Linked DNA regions of Homo sapiens: region 2 is linked to region 1. Evidence: fine-mapped expression QTL. Tissue or cell type: testis. Region 1 holds a variant in brackets; the other region holds the start of a gene. All regions are shown on one strand. Distances are from middle to middle.

Region 1 (8,476 bases):
TTGGGCTGGTAGATATTTGAGAACAGACTGGGCATGGCTGGGCTGCTCAACCAGGGAACTTGCCCTTTCCTTTACAAAACATTTCCACAAGGTTAACTTGGACTTTCCTATAGCGTGACAGTTTTAAGACAATAAAGAAGGAGCATTCCAAAAGTGTGCAAGCAAAAGCTATGTGAGGTGGAAAAGCCTTGCCTCAGAAGCCACACATTGTCACTTTCACCACATTCTATTGGTTAAAGCAAGTCATGGGCAAGCCAAGTTCAGGGGAAGGAGAAAGAGATTCTACCTTCTGAAGAGAAGAGTAGCAGAAGCTTATTGCAAAAGACCTTCAAGTTGAGAGATATGGTTGCAGCCATTTTTGGAAGCAATCTACCATAGTATGCTATTCAAATTTATACTGAAAGGCACTTTAAGAACCTATTAGACTAGAATTATCATTCTTGTCAGATGGGAGCAGATTAGAGAGTGATAGAAAGTGATTAGCTACATCGAACTAGTTTCAAGGAGCCAGTAGAACTACTATCCCGCTGTACCCTTTTCTGGTTGTGATTATTTGTAAGTTGTGCTAACCCTGCCTGTATCACCTTCTCTACTCCATTGACAATGAAACACAGTGACTTGAGAATGTGAGGAAAACTATGGGCTGGATAGTAATTATACTTTTTTTTTTACATTACTATTTATTTGTCTAATAAAGATTAGCAAACATTTGTGATTATCATTTTATGAAGTGTGAACAGTGATTTGAATTAGCTTTCAGTGCTTAGGCCTTTCCATTAACCAACAAATATATAAAATCAGAAACACCATATATAAAATGTAAGCAGATAGTATTTAGCACTGAGCTAATCATATGATCACTTTGGGAAATATTGCTGCCCCTAGGGAGAACCCTCAGGCAAAAGTTACAGGACTAGATCTTTGATGACTTTCTGTATATAGCAAGATACTTTATTTTAGAACCATTATTCTGGCACTTTTGACAAGCATTTCAAACAGTAGAATAGTTTACTGGAGAAGCAGTTGGCTATCCCTAACCTACTTGTTTGCTTCAAAAAAAAAAAAATACCTCTTAAAGGTAAGAATTTACATATTCAAAAGGTAGTTACTTGCTATTTCCACAGTGAAGTGACATTTTCTCTTGTCTAACTCAACTTTAATGGAATAATTATTAAGCAGATAGTGATAAAGTTTACACTGTTCCAGTTGTCAAGTGATATAAATAGACCATTTAAGAACAAGTGAAGAAAAAGATAAACTCCTCATTCTTTAAGATATTAATTTTCATAGTTATGTTACAGTTCTTTCCTTTTATGACTTCAAATCCCAGAAAAACATTTCATGATAGTCCTGAGAGATTTGTTAGTGATAAGTAATACTATTTACATTTTATTGGCAACTTGATAATGATACATGTATTGAATTCAATATGCAAAAATATTCCCTGACTCCTAGTCCAGTCCAATTTTAGTATTACATGCTATTATCTGATTTTACACACACAGACACAAACACAAATTATATAATCACCATAATAAGATATTTAGGAAAATGAATGGAGCCAAATGATAGAATTCATTAAAAATGCTTCACGCGTACCTCACAAAAAATGTGTGTGGCATTTTAAAAGTGGCATGTATTTGAAGAAAAGCATACAACATTTCTCTAAATATCCCGTTATGGTGCTCACAGAATTTTAAAACCTAGTTACTCTGCATAATGAACTGTAAAAATACTCATAGGCTATATAAGTAATATATTTTAGAGGCAGGAAAGACCAAAAAGCTACGTTTAAATATATTGGCTTTTTAATAAATCCTGTTGTTTGGAAGTTATAAATACAAATACTTGGGGAAAATCTTTTTAAATCTTTTATTTCACTGTATTTAAAAAATCCTCTGGATTATGGTAGATTGGACTTTGTTGCTGTTTTTTGTTTTTGCTTCCTAAACAGTATGTGTATGGTGTGGCATGGCCATGGGGGTGGAATCACAGGCACTCTCACACCCTTGATAAGAATGCATCATCTATGTGAAGGGCAGTTAAATCTTACATGTCAGGCCTTTTAGCAAATAATCAGAGAAGGGCTCCCAGCCTTTTCTTTATCCCAGCATTATTTATAACAACAAAAAAAGCTTAAAGTAGAAACAACCTAAATACCCACTAGAAGGAGAATGATTGAGCAAATTATACAGCATATCACTGGACTCTTCTGAGGCCATTAAGTTTCATGTTTTAGAAGAATATGTCATGTCAGAAAAATTGACATTGAGTTGATGTTAAAAGCTATATGTACAGAATGATTCAAATTTGTAAGAACATGTAGCTATGTATGTATATGGGAAATTGTAGAAGAAAGGACAGCAGTTTTTAAACAGTGTCCATCTCTAGATGGTGGGACTATGGGTGAATATTTTTCTCCTTTATACATTTCTGTCTTTTTCATATTTACTAGTTTACTACTTTTTCCTTAGGAATCAGAGAAAAAAATGGCATCATCTTTAGACCAATTGGTGACTAAATATCCAAGAAAAATAGTTATCTATTCTTAAAGTATTCTCTGTTGGCCTAAACTGTTCCCATAATAGTGAAGATATTTTTTTCCTTCAGTCATATTTAACTTATTGCTATTTTAATTTTAGACCATTTTCTCCTTTTTCTCCTATTGTGAATATTAACCATAGCTCATCAGCACTACCAAAACTCTTGAAAAATAAACACCTAAAAGAACATAGTAACGTTTCCTCCTAATATTTTATTTCCCTTTCGTCAGAAACCTCATTTTCTATTCCTTAGTCATTTAGTGATTACTTTTATTTTTCAGGAGCACTTACAAAACAGGCCCCTTCACTATTAAAGGAGAGAAAATCAGAAAGGAGAAAAGACATGGGAAGGGAGATACTAATTCCAAATACATCCATGCTTCAAATATTATTTGATCAAACTTCATAAAAACCATAATGAACACAGGTGTAAGCCTTCCTCAGTGCTAAGCTGGCAAATGTTTAACAGGCTCTGTGAAAGATAAAAGCACTGAGTTTTAGTGTTTGCCGATTTCCAAGGTATAATACTCCTACCGTGGTGATTTCAAGCAATCAATGTGATTTCAAATGGCTTGCAAAATTCCTGAAAATGTAGCAGTTGGCTTTCCCGAGCCGGTAGTTATGGCTCCAGCATACCATTGGCTGGCAAATATTTGTATTCTGAACACACCAAACAATTTCTTAACTTTTACTTTCTCTATTGATATGAAGAAATTATTACTTTTCAGGTATCAGTTTTATTTTACTGTTTCTAAACAGATAACCCGATTGACCTTTTTGGTTGAATTAACCAATAAATAGTTCCAACCAACAAAAATTTGCTATTTAGATAGGCTATTTTATTTTCAAGACAAAAATCAATTGTTTGGCTAAATGGATTCAAGATTCAAAAAACAGACAAAAGAAGGTATTGAGTTGCTTTATGTGTAAACACAGTCTCCTCAGTCTTTTACTCTAGAATTCATATAGCTGGGGTTTTGACTCAATCTAGAGAATCCTTTAACAACCTCTAAGCTGTTTTCCAACTTCCTCTACCACACCCAGCACGAATGAGGGCTGGTATTTCCTTAGTGACACACTTTTGTTAAAAAAAAAAAAAAAAAAAGAAGAAGAAGAAGAAGAAAAAGAAAAGACAGTTACCAGTTATCCAAGGTAGAAGTAAAAGAGTATGTGTAAAGCAAGGCAAAACAGCAAACAAGTTTTAAAAATTAGAAAAACAATTAAAATCTGAAATATTACCAAACATAAAGAGCTAAGGTACAACAAGATACTTCCTCCTCTCTGAAACAATTGTAAATCAGATTTTTAAAGTTGCTGTAAAATAAATTGTATTTAAATAATACATCTCCTATCCTTTCCCACAGTGAGATGCATTTCCCTTACCAATCTGGCTCTCAGCAGGCGGTCCAGCC[C/T]GATGAAGTATCAGCAAAATGTCAGCTCCCACAGAGAAGTGCGACAGAGGCAACAGTGCAGCAGTGACAGGCCTTTCAAAAAGCTATTGTGCAAATTCAGTTTTAAAATAGGGATGTAGTTGAGGACTGATGGGTATTTCATTACCAATGCGTTCATCTCCCCCATCGTCCAAGAGAATGAGAGGGGGTCATGGTGCAGCTGATATAAAGCCATTAAGTTGAGTAGCGGTTGATTTGGTCTGTAGAAGATTTGTCTTCCTATCTGTATTTTTGAAAAGTTAATATTCAAATTAGCTGTCATTTTTAGTACATACCTGCTAAAGGGGGGCCAAGAATTGTTCTGTTTTCTACTTGATCACCTTCCAGTGTCTCAATTAGATCATTAAAAACAAAGTTAATCATGTCATTACTTTATAAACCTCATTGAGCTACTGATACTGTTCATAATGAAGTTCGTAGCACTAAAGACCCATCATCAACCTGTCTCTAGCCAGCTTTTGACCATGCTTACGTATACCCTACATATTTTAGTCATTCCCCCAACATCATGTACATTTAAAACATGGTGCCATTGTTCATTGCTCTTTCCTGTAATACATGTTTTCTTCTTCCATTTTTATTCCCTCAAGCATTTATTCCTCAAGCATTTTTATTTTCCAGTATATGTAAACAAAATACTAGAGCCCTTCTTTCCATAGCAGCACCAATCATATTGTATTATAATTAGTTGCCTGCTATTAAGACTGCTTATCATTAATTTTTGTACACCCCACTTTTCAATATACAAGGGGTACTCAATAAAGATTTGCTAGATTCAATTAAAGAACATTTTTGACAACTTAAAATTCCATCGAAATAATTTACTGAGTAAAAAAAAAAAAAACTTGCAAAACACAGCGTTTATGATACTGAAAAATACCCAGTAACCAATACTCGTTAAACTGGATTGAATTACTCAGCCTTTTAATATAGCAAGAGGAAATCAAGAAAGCTGTAGCACCACAGCTTTATTGGTCTGTACTCCATTTCTGAAAACACTTTTCATGAGAAGATTTTTCAATGGATTAGAAGACTAACATCAGACAATGATGATTCCTTAGCTTCATCTCAAGAGTCCAGATTATTTCCTTCTATACTCACTTTCAATGTATGCAATCATTCCTTTTAAATACAACAGAGTTACCTTAGAAAAGTAAACAAATGTAGGCTGGACGCCGTGGCTCACACCTGTAATCCCAGCACTTTGGGAAGCCGAGGCGGGAGGATCACTTGAGGTCGGGAGTTCAAGACCAGCCTGGCCAACCCCATCTCTACTGAAAATACAAAAATTAGCCTGGAGTGGTGGCACACGCCTGTAATCCCAGCTACTCAGGAGGCTGAGGCAGGAGAATCACTTGAACCCGGGAGGCAGAGGTTGCAGTGAGCTGAGATTGCGCCATTGCACTCCAGCCTGGGCGACAAAAAAAAAAAAAAAGAAAAAGAAAAGTGAACAAATATCTCTGGCTTTTAGTGTCTGTATATAAAAGGAAAGAGTTCGACTATATAATTATATAATATATAATTCAATGTATAGAGAATAACATTATGTAGTAAATATAGACATGCTGTATAGTGATGTATTACTCAAAGCTCATGTTGAGTATCTACTCTGTATTACACACTGTGTTTTGTGTTTTCCATCAGTATGCTCACTTAAACCTTAGAACAACTATCTGAATTTGGTACTATTATCATCCCCATTTCATGAACGAGGAGGCTGTATATAGGAAGAATTAAGTAATTTGTCTGAAGTAATTAATAATTGAGGACTAGATAATCAGTAAAGTACATACCAATATTATATATCTATCAAATGAGACAGTGCTTTCTAATATTAATTTTGTAGCTGCCTGCTTATAAAATTGAGAGAAAATAAAGGAATTTAAGATTCCATAGAAAAAAACCTAAGCAGTCAAGAAATTTCCTTAAGGTTGTTTTATTTTTGGCCCCACCTTTGCAGATTGCAAAAATCGTTGCTAACATAGCCGAAAACATTGTTGAAATGTCAAATGCTATTAATAGCCCATACTCAATTTAATGGTGGAGGGATGTTGTTTTTGTTTTGTTTGGTTTGTTTGTTTGTTTGGTCCTTATATAGCACATCCAACCTATTTCTACAGCCTAAGTTGCCTGGTACACCGCGTTTCCTGGTGGGACCTTGATATCAGCCAATGTCCCTACCTGTTCAACTGGACCAAGCCTGATGACAGATGCTGTATATCAGAAGTTAATTATAGGGCCAGGTGCGGTGGCTCACGCCTGTAATCTCAGCACTTTGGGAGGCCGAGGTGGGTGAATTACCTGAGGTCAGGAGTTTGAGACCACCCTGGCCAACATGGTGAAACCCTGTCTCTGCTGAAAATATCAAAAATTAGGCAGGTGTTGTGGCAGGCGCCTGTAATCCCAGATACTCCAGAGGCTGAGGCACAAGAATTGCTTGAACCCAGGAGGCAGAGGTTGCAGTGAGCCGAGATCATGCCACTGCACTCCAGCCTGGACAACAGAGCGAGACTCCATCTCAAAAAACAAAAACAAAAACAGAAGTTGATTATATATCCAGTTCTTCACCTAACCTAATGACCTAACAAATTTTCTCTACCTTCTGCAGATGCTGAGTTGTCTCAGTCTTTTTTCGTTTTTAGAGGGCTACCCAATCTTGACTGTGTTTAAAAGCCTCTTTGTGTGTTGGGGTAAATATAGCTGGCTAGCTGCCTACAGTAATCTGTGATTACTCTTCCTGCTTGCTTCCAGAGTCCTGAATTGAATATCTGGCAAAGCGCAAAATAAATTCTTATTTCTACAAGGCAAGTCATCCAGAAGTTGCCCTCCAATACACATACCTTTCATATAGACATAGACACAGACCCTTTGTTTGTGAGTTGGACTCACAGTCCACTGTGTTCTGCAATTTTTTATCTACTTATGATTCAATTGTATCTACTTATGATTTATATTTACTTGTTTGGCATCTATTCATTCTAGTACCATAATTTCTTAATATTCAAATATAAGGACCAGTCTGACATATAGAACTCTTTTCTCTCTAAGTGTTTCTTTTTTTAATGCCACTGTGTATAAATATCATTGTGTCTTTCGCAAGCAAACACCCTAAAAATGTCCATATGGTGTCAATATTCCTGAGAAGTTTTCAGAGTACATTGAAGGCGAGAAAGGTCTCAGGTCATAATAACCATTAAGTTTTAATTTTGTTACTATCTCTTGAGTCTTTTATGTACCTATTATTTGTTAAGTATATATGGGGGAGGGGTCCTCAACCCCTGGGCCACAGATTGGTACTTGTCTGTGGCCTGTTAGAAACAGGCCTACACAGCAGGAGGTGAATGTTGGGCAAGTGAGTGGAGCTTCGTCTGTATTTACAGCTACTCCCCATTGCTTACATTGCTGCCTGAGTGCCACCTCCTGTCAGATCAATAGTGGCATTAGATCCTCAAAGGAGCATGAATCCTATTGCAGAACTGCGCATGTGAGGGATCTAGGTTACATGCTCCTTATGAGAATCTAATGCCCAATGATCTATCACTGTCTCCCATCACTCCCAGATGGGACCATCTAGTTGCAGGAAACAAGCTCAGGGCTCCCACTAATTCTACATTATGGTGAGTTGCATAATTATTTCATTATATATTACAATGTAATAATAATAGAAATAAAGTGCACAATAAATGTAATGTACTTATATCTTCCCAAAACCATCCACCCCACCCTGGCCCAGACCATGGAAAAATTATCTTCCATAAAACTGGTCCCTGGTACCAAAAAGGTTGGGGACCACCACTATATGAAATACTAAAAAAGTTAAGACAACATCTTGCCCTCAAGGAATTCGTGCACAATTTAATGAAAGAAGTTGTGTAAATCACTTATTTTAATTATATTTTAAAAGATATTGAAATAATAGATGTTTGATAGCAGACTGTTATTAATCCTACCAGAGGGAACACCTAAGGGCTTTCTGTCACACGCGTCCATGTGAAGAGACCACCAACAGGCTTTGTGTGAGCAATAAAGCTTTATTTTATTTTATTATTTATTTATTTATTTATTTTGAGATGGAGTCTCACTCTTTCGCCCAAGCTGGAGTGCAGTGGTGTGATCTCGGCTTGCTGCAAGCTCCACCTCCCGGGTTCACACCACTCTCCTGCCTCAGTCTCCCGAGTACCTGGGACTACAGGGACCATGCCTGGCTAATTTTTTATATTTTTATTAGAGACAGGTTTTCATAGTGTTAGACAGGATGGTGTCGGTCTCCTGACCTTGTGATCCACCTGCCTCGGCCTCCCACAGTGCTAGGATTACAGGCGTGAGCCACCGCACCTGGCCGCAATAAAGCTTTTTAATCACCTGGGTGCAGGTGGGCTGAGGCTGAAAAGAGAGCCAGCAAGGAAGATAGGGGTGGGGCAGTTTTACAGGATTTGGGTGAGTAGTGGAAAATTACAGTCAAAGGGGGTTTTTCTCTTGCGG
Region 2 (8,476 bases), 72 kb after region 1:
GAGGACTCAGGAAACTTACAATCATGGTGGAAGGCGAAGGGGAAGCAAGGACCTTCCTCACATGGCAACAGGAGAGAGTGAGCGAGCGAGCTGGGGGAACTGCCAAAAGCTTTTAAACCATCAGATCTCATGAGATCTCACTCACTATCATGAGAACAGCATGAGGAAACTATCCTCATGATACAGTCACTTCCCACTAACTAGGTCCCTCCCTCAAATTGTGGGGATTGCAATTCAAGATGAGATTTCAGTGGGGACATAGAGCCAAACCGTATCACAGGGGATATCATTATAGACACTGCTGGCATGAAATGAATAATAAGGGTATACTATAAATAGTTCTACACATATAAATTTGACAAATTAGATAGAAGGAACTCGTTCCTTGAAGAGCACAAAGAATAACTAATCCAATATGAAATAGATAATTTGAATAGTCCTGTAAATATAAATTAGAATTTTCCAGTTCCAGATGATTTGACTGGAGAATTCTATAAAATGTTAAGATGAATTAACATTCTACACAATCTCTTACTAAAATATAAGAAAAAGGAATCCAATTCATTTTATTCTGATACCAAAACCAAAAATATTACCAAAAACAGAAACTACCAAATAATGTCTTTCATGAACATAGCAAAAATGTTTAAAAAAATATTAGAAAATATAATTCAAGAGTTTAAAAATTAATTATACACCACCAAGTGTGCTTCGTTCTAGGGATGTGAGGCTGGTTCAATGTTTGAAAATCAATTTTACCATATTAATGGACTAAAGATCAAATTTAGGAGTATCATACCAATTGATGCAGAAAGAGCATTTGACAAAATTCAATATTATTCATGATTTTAAAGAACGCAGAAAACTAAAAATAAAGGGAATGTTCTCAGCTTGATAATTTGCATTTACATAAAGCCTATGGTATTATAATTAGTGATGAAAGACTGAATTTATCTTCCAAAATATTTATGTAAATATTTAGTAATAAGAAGGGATGAAAATAAAGAACAATAAAAACAATAAAATAAACTTGAAATGAGGAATTACTAAAAAAAAAGGTAAAATATGACTGACCTTATTAGTTCCATTAAGAGAAATTACAGCAATCTAGAAAAAGATAAAATTGTATTCCTACATTATTTTGTTCATCCAAATTACTTCCAGGTGCATAAAGTATTTAAAGATAATCACGAAAATTATGCAAGTACCAAAATTAACATGGGGATTAAAACATTATTTTGTATGGCCATGACAAAAACTCAGAACTCATTTTTTAGAAAAGAAACCCATGGTCTTTTTGACTTAAAGAAAATCAAAAATTTATTCAAGGTATAAAACACACAGAAAAGCAATGTATAAATAAGCTGGATGAAGAAAGACCAACAAAGCGCACTAATTTTCTTTTATTTCTTTTACTTTTCTTTTTTTTTAAGCTACACCTGCTGGAATGGGAGATTAAGTTTTAAGATCTGTGGGGGGTTTTTTTTGTTGTTTTTATTTTTTTGAAACAGGGTGTCATTCTATTACCCAGGCTGGAATGAAGTGATGCTATCATATCTCACTGCAGTCTCTCACTCCTGGGTCCAAGCGATCCTCTCACCTCAGTCTCCTGAGTAGCTGGGACTATGTGCACGTACCACCATGCCCAGCTAATTTTTTTATTTCTCATGAAGACAAAGTCTCACTATATTTCCCAGGCTGATCTCAAGTCCTGGGCTCAAGCAATCTTCCTACTTCGGCCTTACGAAGTGCTGAGATTACAAGTGTGAGCCACTGTATCTGGGCTAATTTTCTTAATAAGCAAAGAGATTTCTTTCATATATCAATAAGAAAAGGCTGTACAACACCCGGTGGATCTTATAAAAGATGATAAGCATCATTTATAGTGTGACAAATCCAAATTTAAGTTGCACTTTGTACCATCTTCACCTATCAGATAATCATGGCATGCCATATTGGCTAAAGATTGAAAAATGGGCACATTGATAATCCTTAGTAAATTGGAAAATCTCTTTGTAGGGAAATTTGATAGTGTTCATTACTACTTAAAAAGCACATATTTTATTTGAAGAATTTACTCTATAGGTACTATATTGTGATATTATACTATATTATCATATCATAAGAATGAAGACTTACATAATGATGTTCATTACAGCATTGTTTGTAGTAGCAAATTATTTTAAACAATCTGGAGTGCCAAAATAAATTTTGCAAAGCACAATAAATTCCTATGTAGCTGTTAAAAAAGAATGAGGCATATATGTACTAATGTAGTAATTTGGAAAAATTATTTAAATACTTTGTGTACTAATTTATGTACTATACTAATTTTATATACATGTACTAATTTAGTACATTGTTAATCTATATTTACTAATTTGGAAAAATCTTGGGAAATTTTATGTAAAAGAAAGCAACATTTACAATATTATTTATTATATATAATGTATTATATAATATATTATATATCATATATTATATATTTTATATATATATATAGACACACTCACACATACACACATATTAACCTTTGGGTAGAAAAGCATTAAGGGATACAGGAGATAGACATATTATGCTTTACTAGCCATAGGCTATTTCTGGATATATCCAGCCATTTATCCACTTAATTCAAAAAATATTTATTGAATGACAATGCCTGTTTTAAGCATATAAAGTGTATGGTTAAAATACAGACTATACAAGTGCTCATGCAACTTGCTTTCTAGTGAGAGAGATAATAATAAATATAAATAATAAGGGAATTAATAAATTTATATATGTTATTTATACCCCTCTAACATATATATATTCTTATCCTTACAGGCTGCTTAAGTCTGAGCGAGACTTGAGACTCTGAGCTTCAATGTTCTTAAGAGTAACGTGTGTGTGTGTGTGTGTGTGTGTGTGTGTGTGTGTACTCTAGAGGGAGTAAAATCTGTGGTAAGAGAAAAAAGAGCATGAAATAAGGCTGGAGAGCGCAGGGTGTGTTGAAAATTTAGAGTACTCAAGGTAAGTCTTATTGAAAGAAGTGAAGCCTGTGATACAGAAAATAGCTGGTAATTATGACGTTTTTGATGATGTTTTTAAGAAAAGAACTGAGAATACTGGAACACAGGAATGGAATATTTTCATAATATATTTTTGTATATTGTTTGAAATAATTAACATGTGATTACATAAAGTTTAAAAAGGCCATAAAGTCATTTACACAATTCTGTGTCAATATTGTCATAAGACCTAGACCTGTAGAAGTAAATATTTCTGAGTTTTTCTTACTTTTTCAATTATGCTTTTTTTCCCCAATTATGTTTTAAATCTTATCTTGGCTTAGTAGAAGTCCTGTATTTTCACAGATTCATTGATTTCATCAATCCATTTCAACATATAGGCTGGTAGATGAATGGGTCTCCTGGCTGATGAGGACAGGGTTGTTTTAGGAGCGTAGAAGGAAAACAGGCAAAAGTTTATTTTAATAACACCTGATATTGATTCTGCTTAATTTGCCCTATATGCAAAAGGTAAAATGGATTTAATTAAAGGTAGTCTATTGCACGTATAATGATGATTCAACCATTAATTGTACAACTATAACTGTTATTTAAGTAACAAAATCAAAAAATTTTTTTCATTTGGTACTGGAATTCAGTGCAGCTAGTTGCTCAAATAAAAGCAATAAAGAAAGTATCATGCAGATTGAATTCATGTACCTGTTCTGCTATGTATTAACCAATGCCTTTGGGCAAGTTAAAAAAAAAAAGTCTCTCTAACTCTTTTTTTCCTACTTGCTGGAATATAAAAATTTCTCTAATGTTTATTCTGCTAGCTGGAATTTTAAAAATTACTCTAGTTTGCTTCTGCTAGTTGGAATAGAAATAATTTGATTGGAAGTCAGATAGTCTAGATTTGACTCTTAGTTCTTATCCTTATAGGCTGTTTAAGTTTGAGCAAGACTTTAGACTCAGAGCTTCAATTTTCTCAAGAGTAAAATAAGAATACTGCTACCCACATCACAGGAGTATTTTTTAGTATTAAATGAGATAATCCATGTGGAAAATATTATTATGTAAAAATACTATAAACTTCAGGTCATAAATGGCAGGCTGTTGGCCAAATGTAGCCACAAATATGTTTGAATTGGCTGTCATAGTTTTGGCTTTTAGCAGCGCTGTAAAACAATTTTAATTAGTGGTCAACTTTCAAAGATTTGTTAATTTCACATAAAATATGAACTTTTGAGTTTTCCTTAAAAAGTCATATTAGCTGGCAGTATTGGGTTTGCGTTCTTCATAGCAAAAGCAACAAAATGCAAGTCTGATTCTCACCTTGGAGGGGCTTTGCACTCCCATCGGTTGCACTTCTCATCATTCAATTATCTTTTCCGTGACACTGAAGAAAGAGAGGCTCCGTTTTCCTTGTCTGGTTAGTTTCGTTCACTTGTGTCCTTTTTTTTTTTTTTTTTTTTTTTTTTGAGACGGAGTCTCTCTCTGTCGACAGGCTGGAGTGCAGTGGTACCATCATGGCTCACTGCAACCTCCGCCTCCCGGGTTCAAGTGATTCTCCTGCCTCAGCTTCCGGATTCTCCTGCCTCAGCCTCTGGATTCTCCTGCCTCAGCCTCTGGAATAGCTGGTACTACAGGCGCCCGCCACCATGCCCAACTAATTTTTGTATTTTTAGTAGAGATGGGGTTTCACCATGTTGGCCAGGATGGTCTTGATCTCTTGACCTTGTGATCCACCTGTCCTGGCCTCCCAAAGTGCTGGGATTACAGGCATGAGCCACCACCCCCAGGCCACTTGTGTCTTAATTCCTCTTGATAGTGCATTTTAGTTTGTGTCACCCACCTCTGTAAGTTGAAATACTTTTACCATTTCAGTAACTTGAAAACAAACTGCTCATTTTTCTTCTTTATCAGTTATGAAACTAAATATATAAAATCTTATCCCTAGTCATCCAGGATTGACTGCTCCTTCTTCACAAGGGTCTCTGCAGGTCCCAGTATACCAAACACACAGTATTAATCAATATTCATGGAGTGAATGAAAAAAATGAATGAATGAAAGTGATATATTTGCTACCTTACAGATAACATGTGAGTAGTTCTTTGTTTTAATTTTAACATTTATTAAGCTTTTGCTATCTAGATACAGTTACTGTATCTGAAGTAGAGAAAAATGTTGTTTTTCCGGCTGAGCACCATGGCTTACGCCTGTAATCCCAGCACTTTGGGAGGTCAAGGTGGGTGGATCACCTGAGGTCAGGAGTTTGAGACCAGCCTGACCAACAAGGTGAAACACTGTCTCTACTAAGAATACAAAAATTAGCCAGGTGTGGTGGCATGCACCTGTAGTACCAGCTACTCAGGAGGCTGAGGCAGGAGAATTGCTTGAACCTGGGAGGCAGAGGTTGCAGTGAGCCAAGATCATACCACTGCATTCCAGCCTAGGTGACAGAGCAAGACTCCTTTAAAAAAAAAAAGAGAAAGAGAGAAAGAACGGAAGGAAGGAAGGAAGAAAGAAAGGAAGAGAAAAGTGTTGTGTTATTTTATTTTTACAAAATTTTATTACAGGTTGTCCCCAGATAAGACATGGCCTCAATTATCAGCTAAAATGTACTTGTAAAAATGGTGGCCTTTGCAATTCTGCAGATAGAAGGTCTATCTGTGGCCTTGGGTGGACAGGAAATTATTGTGAAAAAAGCAAGTTGATTCACTGCCTTTTTTCCCTCAATAAAGATCTACTTTAGGCCGGACGCAGTGGCTCACACCTGTAATCCCAGCACTTTGGAAGATTGAGGTGGGCAGATCATGAGGTCAAGAGATCGAGACCAACCTGGCCAATATGGTGAAACCTCGTCTCTACTAAAAATACAAAAATTAGCTGGGCATGGTGGCGGGCGCCTGTAGTCCCAGCTATTCTGGAGGCTGAGGCAGGAGAATTGCTTGAACCCTGGAGGCGGAGGTTGCCGTGAGCTAACATTGCGCCCCTACACTCCAGCCTGCCAACAGAGCAAGACTCCGTCTCAAAAATAAAAAAAGGATCTACTTTTGAGAATACTGTCATTGGTTGATAAAATACAGCAGAAACTTGTGAAGAAGCTATTTTCCAGTAAGCTAATTCAAGTTGTTTAGAACTATAATTGAATATCCAATAAAATTGTTATGTAAATATGATTGATATTGTTACTGAAATATCACATGAAAACTCCTAAACTCCTTAAGTAATTGAAATAGTATTAATGTGAAAGAGCTCCTCTGAGACCTAAACTTAACTCCCCTACCAGCCACTTTTTAAGCCTAAAGAAAGGCTTTGTGGACACCAAATCTACTAAGTCTTGAGTTTCTAGGCATGAAGCTGAAGAATCTCCACCACCTCTGAGGCTTTCAGGCAGGCAAGGCGGAGGATACAGGGCTCTGGGAGAAGCCAGATCACATGAATAAGAATAGGCACAGCTGCAAAGAGGGAAGAGGACCACCCAAAAGTCTCCAAAATTTGTTTCATCAGGAAAAATTTAATCAGTACAGTAGTCCCCCTTTGCCTGTGGTTTACCTGCGGTACAGTACAGTAAGATTTTTGTAAGATTGGCAGAACTCTAAGTACATTGATGTAATTTTTTTATTAGTTACTGTGAATGCCTTATTATGCCTAACTTATGAATTAAACTTTATTATTGTTATGCATGTATAGTGGAAAACGTAGTGTATATAGGGTTCAATGCTATCTGAGCTTTCAGACATCCACTGGGAGTCTTGGAATGTATTCTCCATGGATGGGGGGCCTGCTATACCACTATACATGCATTTTTATTTATAAATGACATTCTTGCACGTCTTGACTAATAAGTATATTATAAAATGTAGATAAATGCTTAAATTGATAAACATGGATAAAATGAATATTGATAGTTGTTCTAATGTTTGTTTTCCTGAACCACAATTTGTTATTTTGTACAACACTGGAAAGCACCAACTTTATTTAGAGCGCACTATTGTAGGAGACATTGTATTTTGGCAGATTACAGAGCAAAGGTTCTGGCAAAGTGTGGATGAGAACATTGTGCTGGAGGCCTAAACTTGAGGCACTCAGAGCAGAAAAAAATTCACAATGTACGTTTACCCAGATGGTTTCAACTGCGGGTGGTGTGACTCTTCCGACTTAGTGAAAATGAGTGTGATTATCTACTCTCCGTCACTACTCGTTCAACTGTCATGAAATTCAACAACATGTTATAGAAGAAACCACATTGCAATGGGCATGGATAAACATGAATGCTAACCCTAGCTCTGCTAATACCATGTGGTCTATCTTTGGGCAGTTCACATCCTCTTTCTGATTTAATTTTCCCATCTGAAAATGAGGGTATTGAGCTGAATAATACCTGACAGTCCTTCCAAATCTAAGATTCAAGGCCATTTTTCATGGGATTTTGAAAAGATGGATATCCTGCCTAATTCATGGGAGATGGCTCTTATCAGTTTTGTGATTTGAGATTACAAAATCAGCTTTTTAAAAACAGACAGTACTATCATGTCCATGCTCTTTTTGATTGTAAGTTGAGTAATTTTCTGGCATTTAGTATGTGGGATATTTTTACCATTGATTCTATCATTTAAAGTTTTTATTATGTAACATTTCAAACACATACAAGAGTTAAGAGAATGATATAACGGTATAATGAATCTCCATATATCTGTCATTCACCTTCAACAATAATCAATCAATTTATGATTAATCTTGTGTCATCTATACTTCCAGCCACTCCCTCACTCTGTACCTCTATGGTATTATTTAGAAGCAGATCATGGTCATATTAATATTCTTTTCTAAGCTTTTGGTATTATAAATTTTGTATCAATAAATAGTTTTGTGCATATATTGTTTAATATTTTTGCCAAACCTCCAAGAGGTTTTAAGTCTTCCATATTGGACTTACATATTCTGTATTGTACTTGATTGGCCACCTAAGGAAATGTTTCAAAGGTTAAATTTTACAGACTTCAAAACCTAACTTCCTTGTAAGATATTTACCTACTGTATGTGCATCATATTCTTTTAATCTCTTTCTTCCTTCTTCTCTTCCTTCTTCCTTTCTCTCACACCCATCTCTGTCATTTACTCCCAGGACTTCAAATATCAAAAATTATATGATATCACCTTCCACAGATACTGTCTTATTTATTTAAATAATTTAATTTAAAAATCATTCTCACTAAATTTAGCCTGGATTTGAACACATTGCTTCTTTATGTCTTTAAGGTATTGAAGGATTTTTTTTCTTTATTTTTTTCTGTTTTTTCTTTGTTTTTTTTGTTTCATTTTTTTATTTTTTGAGATGGAGTCTCACTCTGTCACATGTCACCCAGGCTGGGGTGCAGTGGCACAATCTTGGCTCACTGCAACCTCTGCCTCTCGGGTTCAAGCGATTCTCCTGTCTCAGCCTCCTGAGTAGGTGGGATTACAGACATGCATCACCACG

The links. PIP is the estimated chance that this variant, and not a neighbour inherited with it, causes the effect.
Region 2: it holds the start of LINC02082, and the variant in region 1 is fine-mapped to the expression of LINC02082 in testis (GTEx, PIP above 0.99).

Annotation. Positions count from the first base shown.
Region 1 is chr3:168,825,171-168,833,646 of GRCh38, forward strand. It overlaps the pseudogene EGFEM1P. Among named protein-coding and RNA genes, the nearest start is that of LINC02082, 73 kb to the right of the region's middle. The variant C/T (reference allele first, on the strand shown) is at 3,956.
Region 2 is chr3:168,897,433-168,905,908 of GRCh38, forward strand. It overlaps LINC02082 (long intergenic non-protein coding RNA 2082), which reads left to right and starts at 4,513. Exons shown (of 5, transcript NR_109989.1): 1 at 4,513-4,547; 2 at 5,934-6,108.